2 separate regions of the Homo sapiens genome follow, and region 2 is linked to region 1. A link means that fine-mapping ties the variant in region 1 to the plasma level of a protein whose gene starts in the linked region. Region 1 holds a variant in brackets. A gene starts in the other region. All regions are shown on their forward strands.

Region 1 (5,525 bases):
TACACACAAAGGCCGCAGCAAAAGATTTTAAAAACCTATTTTCACGTCCATGCCTTTAAATTATGAATGGAACAAGGACAGTTTTTATTCCAGTCAGAGTTGCCACAGAACACCCCATCATCTATTTTAAATTCCTTGTAAATGAAGGCTGGACACGCTTAACTTTGCAACGTTATGTCTCTCCGGGGCTTTTGTGGCAGCCTTTCCAGTGCTAGCCTTCCCTGATTCTAATACACATAATTTATGCAATGGCAAGTTGCTTTGGTTTCTGTCTGGCTGTGTCTTAATTTGCGTTGATTTTCTTGTTAACAGGCTGCTGTAATGTCTGGCTCTGTATTTCCAGCTTTGCTTTACAATGTATTTTCAGACTTTAATTAGGACCCCTGATGATGAACTGGCCTGAGCCTGCCCAGATAGACTTGGGAGGAAAGAAAGCTTTCCAAATAACAAGGTCATTTTATTGCTTATTAATTAGTCCAACTAAATGGAGACAGTGGCCAGGAGGGGGAAAAAAGGTGACGTGCAGGCCAGTTCATAAAGCTGCATTTTTGGGGGTGGGTACAGCGTCTCCAAAGAATTGCAAATAAAGGAAACGAGATTGTTTCTGAGAGTTAAGCTATGAACTTTAACACACTGTGGGGAAGGAATTGAGCCCTGAAAGCATCCGCTTAAGTGATTACATGAAGAATGAACTGACATGTTTTTTCCAATCAAACCACCTGAGTTTCTCTAAGTTTTGTTTGTTCACCAGATATTGCTGGGGCAGCCCTGCCCCACCAAGGTGCTGTGCTTGGGGCTGGAGTTGCAACTCTAAGCCCCATCTCATGAAACCTACACCCGGCAAAGGAACTCAAAACTGCATCCCGCTGTAGAAATGTACGATAGCTGGCCGGGCGCGGTGGCTCATGCCTATAATCCCAGCACTCTGGGAGGCTGAGGCAGGCGGATCACAAGGTCAAGAGATCGAGACCATCCTGGCCAACCCCATCTCTACTAAAAATACAAAAATTAGCTGGGCATGGTGTTGCGTGCCTGTAGTCCCAGCTACTCAGGAGGCTGAGGCAGGAGAATTGCTTGAACCTGGGAGGCGGAGGTTGCAGTGCGCCAAGATTGTGCCACTGCACTCCAGCCTGGCGATAGAGTGAGACTCCGTCTCAAAAAAATAAAATAAAAAAAAATTAAAAAAAAAAGAAATTAAGATAGCTGTTCCCAAGATGAGGACGTTAACAAGCCCACGGGGAGATTACATTTAGGGCCACTGTTAAAATTGGGCAAGCAGGGATAACATTCAGGCAGTGTGTTTTTGGCACTGACCAGCCATATTAGTCAGCTTGGGTTGCTGTAACAAATACAACAGACTGTATGGCTTAAACAATAAATGTTTATTTCTCACAGTTCTGGAGGCTAAAGTCCAACATCAGGGTACTAGCATGGTCAGGTTTTGGTGAGGGCTCTTTCCTGGCTTGCAGACGGCCCCCTTCTTGCTGTATTCTCACAAGGAGAATACAGTTCAAGACCAGCCTGGTCAACATAGCAAGACCCCATCTCTACAATAATAATAAATTAATAAGAGAGGGCTCTCTCTCTCTCTCTCTCTGATGTTATCATCCTAATTATTGGAAGACATGGAGGGTCTGGGAGGAGAACTGGTTATTTTTTTTTTGGAGTGAACAGATTTCGAATTAACATCTAGTTGGTGCCATATCCTATCAGTGTGACTTATAAATTCTCTCATTTGATCCTTGCAGGGATTTTATAAGATTAGCATTATTATCCTCACTTACATATGAGTAAAATGAAGTTCAGATAGTTTGAGTCACTGCAGACTCTAATTTATAAATTCTAGGTCTGAGAAGTCAATGAAAACTAGGAAAAGGACTCAAATTAACTTGACTTTACCCCAAAGCCATAGACATACTTAATGAGAGAGAGAGAAAGAACCCTCTTATTAATTAATTAATCATTATTATTGTAAAGATGGGCTCTTGCTATGTTGCCGAGGCTGATTTTGAACTCCTGGGCTCAAGCAGTCCTTCCACTTCACCTTCCCAAAATGCTGGGATTATAGGTATGAGGCACCACTCCCAGCCAAGTCCTCTTTTCACAAATGCACTTATCTCATCATGGAAGCTGATGGAACCCTCATAACCTTATCTAAATCTAATTACCACCTAAAGGGCCCATGTCCACATATGGACACACTGGGGATTCGGGTTTCCACATATGAATTTCGGAGGGACACAAACATTCAGTCCATGGAACCAGGCAAGAGGAAATGGTGGCTCAACAGCCTTTGAGTATCCCAGACCCACTGTCAAAGATCAATCCACAGGCTGGGTGCTGTAGCTCATGCCTGTAATCCCAACACTTTGGGAGGCCGAAGCGGGTGGATCACCTGAGGTCAGGAGTTCGAGACCAGCCTGGCCAACATGGCGAAACCCCATCTCTAGTAAAAATACAAAAATTAGCCAGGTGTGGTGGCGGGTGCCTGTAATCCCAGCTATTTGGGAGGCTGAGGCAGGAGAATTGCTTGAAACTGGGAAGTGGAGGTTGCAGTGAGCTGAGATCATGCCACTGCACTCCAGCCTGGTTAACAGAGCAAAACTCCATCAAAAAAAAAAAAAAAAAAAAAGTTAATCTACAGTAGAGAAAAGGCCCTCAAGCTTCACAAAGTAAAGGACTTTTTTGATGCTCCATTTGAATTCTCTTAGCATTAACGAAGTCCACACTCACTAAGGCAAACTTCAGATTCTGATTTCCTGTGTAGCTTGTGCACAGGAAGAAAACATGTTGACCACGCTGACATTCTGGTTCCTGTACCCATCCTTGGAAGTCAGATGGGTC[G/A]TGGGCATTCCTGCCTCTTTCTTGGGCTCACATGGTTTGTGTGGATGTGAGTCAGGCTCTCGGGGCTGGCACCACCAAGCATGACTCTCAGGACCTTCCCAGCCAAAGACTGGCTCCTGTAACACGATGACCTAGTTAATACGATACCTCCTGCGGACCGGCCCAGCTCCAGACAACCTTCCCTCGCGTGGCTGTAGTGGAAAGGGCATAGGAATTTGGGTTGGAAAGGCCTGGGTTCAAATTCTGGCTTTGCCATTTCCTCCCTGTAGGGGTCTGCAGTCTTCAATATGGCACCGTGATGAGACAGGCCTTGGCATAAGATGCACTGAGCTCATACCAGCTATGTAGTCTTGGAAAGCTATTTAAACTCTCTCTGCCTCAGCTTCCTTCTCTGTAGAATGGGAATTTGGATGCCTGTTTTACAGAGTGTTTTAAAAGTTAGAAATATGTGTAACATGAGTAGAGTAGTAGCCACTTGGTACGTGTTAGATATTTTTGTTACTATAAGACAACGCTAATGCCTATTTATACCTTAGGTCTCAGCTTACACTTAACTTCTTTTGGGAAATGCTTTCCCAACACACAGGTATACACACTTGGTGCCCTTTGAGAACATCCTGTGCTTCATGTTTCCCAAATCCTCTTACATAATGAAATTATCCACCTCCCTCACTGACCAGTGAGCAGCTTGAGGGCAGGGATTTGTCTTGTTCATTGATATATCCTGGATCACCTACAGCAGGGGTTCTCAACCCCCAGGCCACTGTACCAGTCCATGACTTGTTAGGAGCTGGGCCCTACAGCAGGAGGTGAGCGGCATGTGAGTGAAGCTTCATCTGTATTTACAGCCACTCCTCATCGCTTGCATTACCGCCTGAGCTCCGCCTCCTGTCAGATCAACAGCGGCATTAGATTCTCACAGGAGTGCGAGCCCTATTGTGAACTGCCCATGTGAGGGATCTAGGTTGCATGTTCCTTATAAGAATCTAATGCCTGATGATCTGTCAGTGGCTCCCATCACCCCCAGATGGGACCATCTAGTTGCAGGAAAACAAGCTCAGGGCTCCCACTTGTTCTACATTATGGTGAGTTGTGTAATTATTTCATTATATATTACAATATAATAATAATAGAAATAAAGTGCACAATAAATGTAATGCATTTGAATCATCTCGAAACCATCCCTCCCAACCCCTGTCTGTGGAAAAACTGTCTTCCATGAAACTGGTCCCTGGTACCAGGAAGGTGGGGGATAGCTGACCTACAGTATAATAGCCAGGACTCTCTGGTTGTAAGTGACGGAAACCCAACTCAATCAACCTAAACACAAAAGAGGCACAGGTGGGGCTCTTGAACTAAGCCCCTGAGAGCCTCCATTTTTTCCTCTGTGCTTCTGAGCCAGTTGGCCCATTCTTTCAAGTTCCTCCATGTGATAGTCAAGGAAGCCCTTACCCTTCTGGGGTTGCCTGCTTATAGCTTGATATTCCAGAGGGGGAGAAAAGAGCTATTTCTCATTCTCTGGTTCAGAAAATTCCAAGTTTAAATTCACAATAGCCCTGCTTGGCTCATGGGTCATGGGCCAGTTCACCAAGGACAGAAGCTTGTGCTAGTTTGATTAGCATGCAGTGGAGTCCCACACTGCATTAGTATCCAGGTGGGACATTACATGGGAAACTATCATTAGGTCTCACCAGGTAGAGTGCAGGACCCGAGCTGCTGTTGGTGGAGAAACAGCGTTCCTGAGGTCTGGAATTATACCCTAGGGCAGTGACAAGACTAGGCAGACATACCTCTGCTCTTGTGGAACTCTAACCTAGATAAGGGAGCCAGCAGCAGCAAGAAGACAAATCCCTGAACAAGATAAAGTCAGATATGATAAGGGTTAGGGACAAACTCGAACAGTGCTGCTGCAGGTGTAGCCGGGTCAGGGAGATCTCCCCAGGAGGCGAAATGAGAGCTGAAGCCCAGCTGACCAGGAGGGGCCAGCCCTGTGGAGACCAGAGCAGAGTGATCAGGACAGAGGGAACACAAAAAGGGCCTGAGGCCAGAGCCAGCTGGAAGTGTTCTAGAAAAAACAACTCAGCCTGGCGCGGTGGCTCACACCTGTAATTCCAGCACTTTTGGAGGCCCAGGTGGATGGATCTTGAGGTCAGGAGTTTGAGACCAGCCTGGCCAAGATGGTGAAACTCCGTCTCTACTCTAAATACAAAAATTAGCCAGGCGTGGTGGCCCATGCCTATAGTCCCAGCTACTTGGGAGGCTGAGGCAGAAGAATCTCTTGAACCTGGGAGGCGGAGGTTGTGGTCAGCCGAGATCGTGCCATTGCACTCCAGCCTGGGTGACAAGAGCGAAACTCCGTCTAAAAAACAAACAAACAAAAAAAGCAGAAAGTAAAAGCAACTCACCTTGTCTGGCTGGAGGGGAGAGAGCTTGGGGAGGAGGGGAGTTGATGCCAAACGGGGTCCAGATCACTGAGGTGGCAAGTTCCCACCTTTCCCGTGTTGTGTCACACCTGGAAACTAATACTTCTTGTGGTGGGTTGGGGTGGGTGGTTGTGCATCAAGCAACAGTCGTCAGCAGCCCCATGAGTCATGTGGAAGGAGTGGCCAGAGAAAGAGTGGATGCTCTACAGCAAAACACAACTGATGGTAGCAATAGTCAGTGCTCAGACAACAGGCAGA
Region 2 (2,601 bases), not on the chromosome of region 1:
CGACCTCCTCCTTCAGGGCACCCAGCGCCGCCGTCTGCTTCGAGGCTGGAACGACCCCCGCCCCAAAATGCATGCCCCTCGGGTCACTTGGGAGGACTCAGGGGACCCCCTTCCAGCCTCAGGGACCATAGGGCCCCCACGCACTCGAGACTCCATCTCCGGGGTCTCAGAAACTCCCGCCCCTCACGCCCCGGGGGCCCAGGCGCCCGGCTCTGCACACACCGTTTGTCCTCAGCAGGTCGTGGCCGTCAAGCAGCGCCGCGCGCTCCGTGGAGGCTGAGGAGAGAGGCTCCTGCAGGCGAGGCCGGGAACTCGGGAATCCTCCCCTCGCCCGGGGGGTGCAGCGTCCCCCAACTCGGGAGCACGGAGCGGGCGGGCAGGCATACAGCTCACACGATGTGCACACACGCCGATGGGAGACAAACGCGCGGGGACTCGCGCACATACGAGCACGCCATGTGCACACGCGTGAGTGCACACGGCCCAAAGATGTACACACACTCTGCTCACACTCAGACGCGAACAGGACCCCAGGATGCAGCTGGTGCGCCATGCAGTGGGGGTTTTCTGTCCCCAGGGGGGCCGGATGCAACACCTCCCCATTGAGAGTCACTCACCCTTGGACAATAGGATACTCAGAATCACAGCCCAAAGGACTGTGGTGACCAGGACAGCCAGGGCCAAGAAGAGGGGTCTCCTGCTCCAGTGCACCCAGCGTCCCCAGGGCCCTGGCATAACAAGGACGGCATGCTGGGTCCCCCAGAACTGAGCCCTGGAGGCCTGAGTTACTCCCAGGAAACTGAGATTCAGAGAAGTTAAGTAACTTGCCTATGGTCACACAGCTTCTAAGCGGCAGAGTTGGAATTGGACCCTGGTCCAACTGGCTCTATGGCCTGTGGTGTCTCTCCTGCACCCACAACCCTGGCCTGTCTCGACTCTTCCCTCCCCTCCCCCATCAAACCCCAGACACTGGGGCAGGGATGGGGCAGTCTCCTTGCTCATACCTCCGGGGACCTCCTCGGAGCTGCCGCCCCACTTGCTGTACCTGGTGGTGTCCATGGCGATGCAGGCACCCAGTCCTGGGCAGAGATATAAATTTCACGCCTGTTCTCACTGGACCTACGCACTCCCTTCCTTCCTTCCCATTTTCTTGGCCTTAATTCCTGGCAACGGGAACCCATGGACCAATCACAGGATTGGGCCCTTTCAAGGCTGGGCTGGGCTGGGCTGGAGTGAGGCCGGGCGGTTCCAGCCTCCTGGTTCTGGCCACTGCAGCTCCATCCCCAGGCTGGTGCTGGAGGCTTCTCTTTGGAGCTTAGTCACCATCTCTTATGGGCCTGGGGCTGGAGGCTTCTCTTTGGAGCTTAGTCACCATCTCTTATGGGCCTGGGGCTGGGTTTTATCCCGCGAGGGACACACTGAACCCGACCAAATTGTAACCCCTGCTGGCTCCTGAGAAAGCCCCCTCAGGCATAGCCCCCCAGGCCAGTTCAGGTCCCTTCTCAACTCCCCTGCAGGTGCCTGCAGAGGCTGGGTTTGAACCTGACCTTGATCCAGTCCCTCTGTACCAGAAGGGAACAAACAGTTTTGTTAGGGAGGTAGCCGGCGGAGCTGCAGGACTCTACCACTGTATGGGTTCTAGGTAGCTTCTAGAAGCCTTAGTTTTCCCCACTGTAAAGGAGATAGCGATGGGCCTCTCTCACAAAGATGCTATGATAAAGAAACAAGACAGTCTTGCTGGCTCACACCTGTAATCCCAGCACTTTGGGAGGCCGACATGGAAGGATCACTGAGCCCAGGAGTTCCAGACCAGACCAGCCTGGGCAATATAACAAGACCCTCATTTCTGAAAAAAAAAAAAAAATATATATATATATATATATATGAAAACAAAAATTGAAAAAATAAAAAAATAAAGACAATGAGGTTATACATGTCTACCTAGCACCATTTCAGGCATATCAAAAACACTCAGTGTTCATGCATTCTTTCAACAAACATTGAGCACCTGCCATATGCCAGGCATTGATCTTGGAACTGGGGCCACATCAGAGAGTAAAATAAGCAAATTCCTCTCTTCTTGGAGCTAATATTCTAGAAGTGTGGGGAGACAGACTCCATACTCAACGTAATAAACATAATTGAAAACATAAGTTGTATAGCATAGTAGTTCCCAGCTGGGGGCAATTACGCCCACCAGGGGACATTTGGCTATGTCTGGAGACACTTTTGGTTGTCACAGAATGTGTGTGTGTGTGTGTGTGTGTGTGTGTGTGTGCTCCAGGCATCTAGTGGGTAGAGGCCAGGGATGCTGCGCAAAGCCCTACAATGCCTAAGACATCCCCCATAGCAAAGAATGATCTGACTCCTAATGTCCATAGTGCAAAAGGTGGGAACCGTAGTATACTCTATTCAAAAGTCATAAATGCTATGAAAAAACATTAAGGGAAGAAAAAATCCAGTAGGATAAGTACTTGGCAGGACTGGGATGGGCACTAGGCAGTGGGCAGTGGCTAGGGTGGCCAGGGCCAGCCTCACTGACAAGGTGAAATGTTGAGCACTTAATAGAATGTTCCAGCCCCTCTTGTAGATATGTAAACA

Which allele goes with the higher level. Positions count from the first base shown, and alleles are read on the strand shown. Strength reflects both the effect of a copy and how common the allele is.
As copies of G replace A in region 1, the plasma level of the protein whose gene starts at base 1,067 in region 2 goes up (weak association).

The links. A credible set is the group of variants that fine-mapping cannot tell apart. PIP is the chance, under the fine-mapping model, that this variant and not a neighbour inherited with it causes the effect. The UK Biobank Pharma Proteomics Project read protein levels with antibody pairs (Olink). The fine-mapping took linkage between variants from a reference panel, not from the people measured, so its PIPs are less certain.
Region 2: CLEC4G starts here. The variant in region 1 is the best candidate, but not a certain one, in a credible set for the plasma level of the CLEC4G protein (UK Biobank, PIP 0.50).

The regions. Positions count from the first base shown.
Region 1 is chr17:68,321,460-68,326,984 of GRCh38, forward strand. All of the region lies in intron 2 of ARSG (arylsulfatase G), which reads left to right. Among named protein-coding and RNA genes, the nearest start is that of ARSG, 33 kb to the left of the region's middle. The variant G/A (reference allele first, on the strand shown) is at 2,845.
Region 2 is chr19:7,731,044-7,733,644 of GRCh38, forward strand. CLEC4G (C-type lectin domain family 4 member G) reads right to left here and starts at 1,067. Exons shown (of 9, transcript NM_198492.4): 1 at 1,005-1,067; 2 at 618-728; 3 at 223-276; 4 at 1-45. The coding sequence starts at 1,059. RefSeq lists promoters at 1,062-1,668, 1,062-1,374, 1,062-1,325 and a cis regulatory region at 1,132-1,141.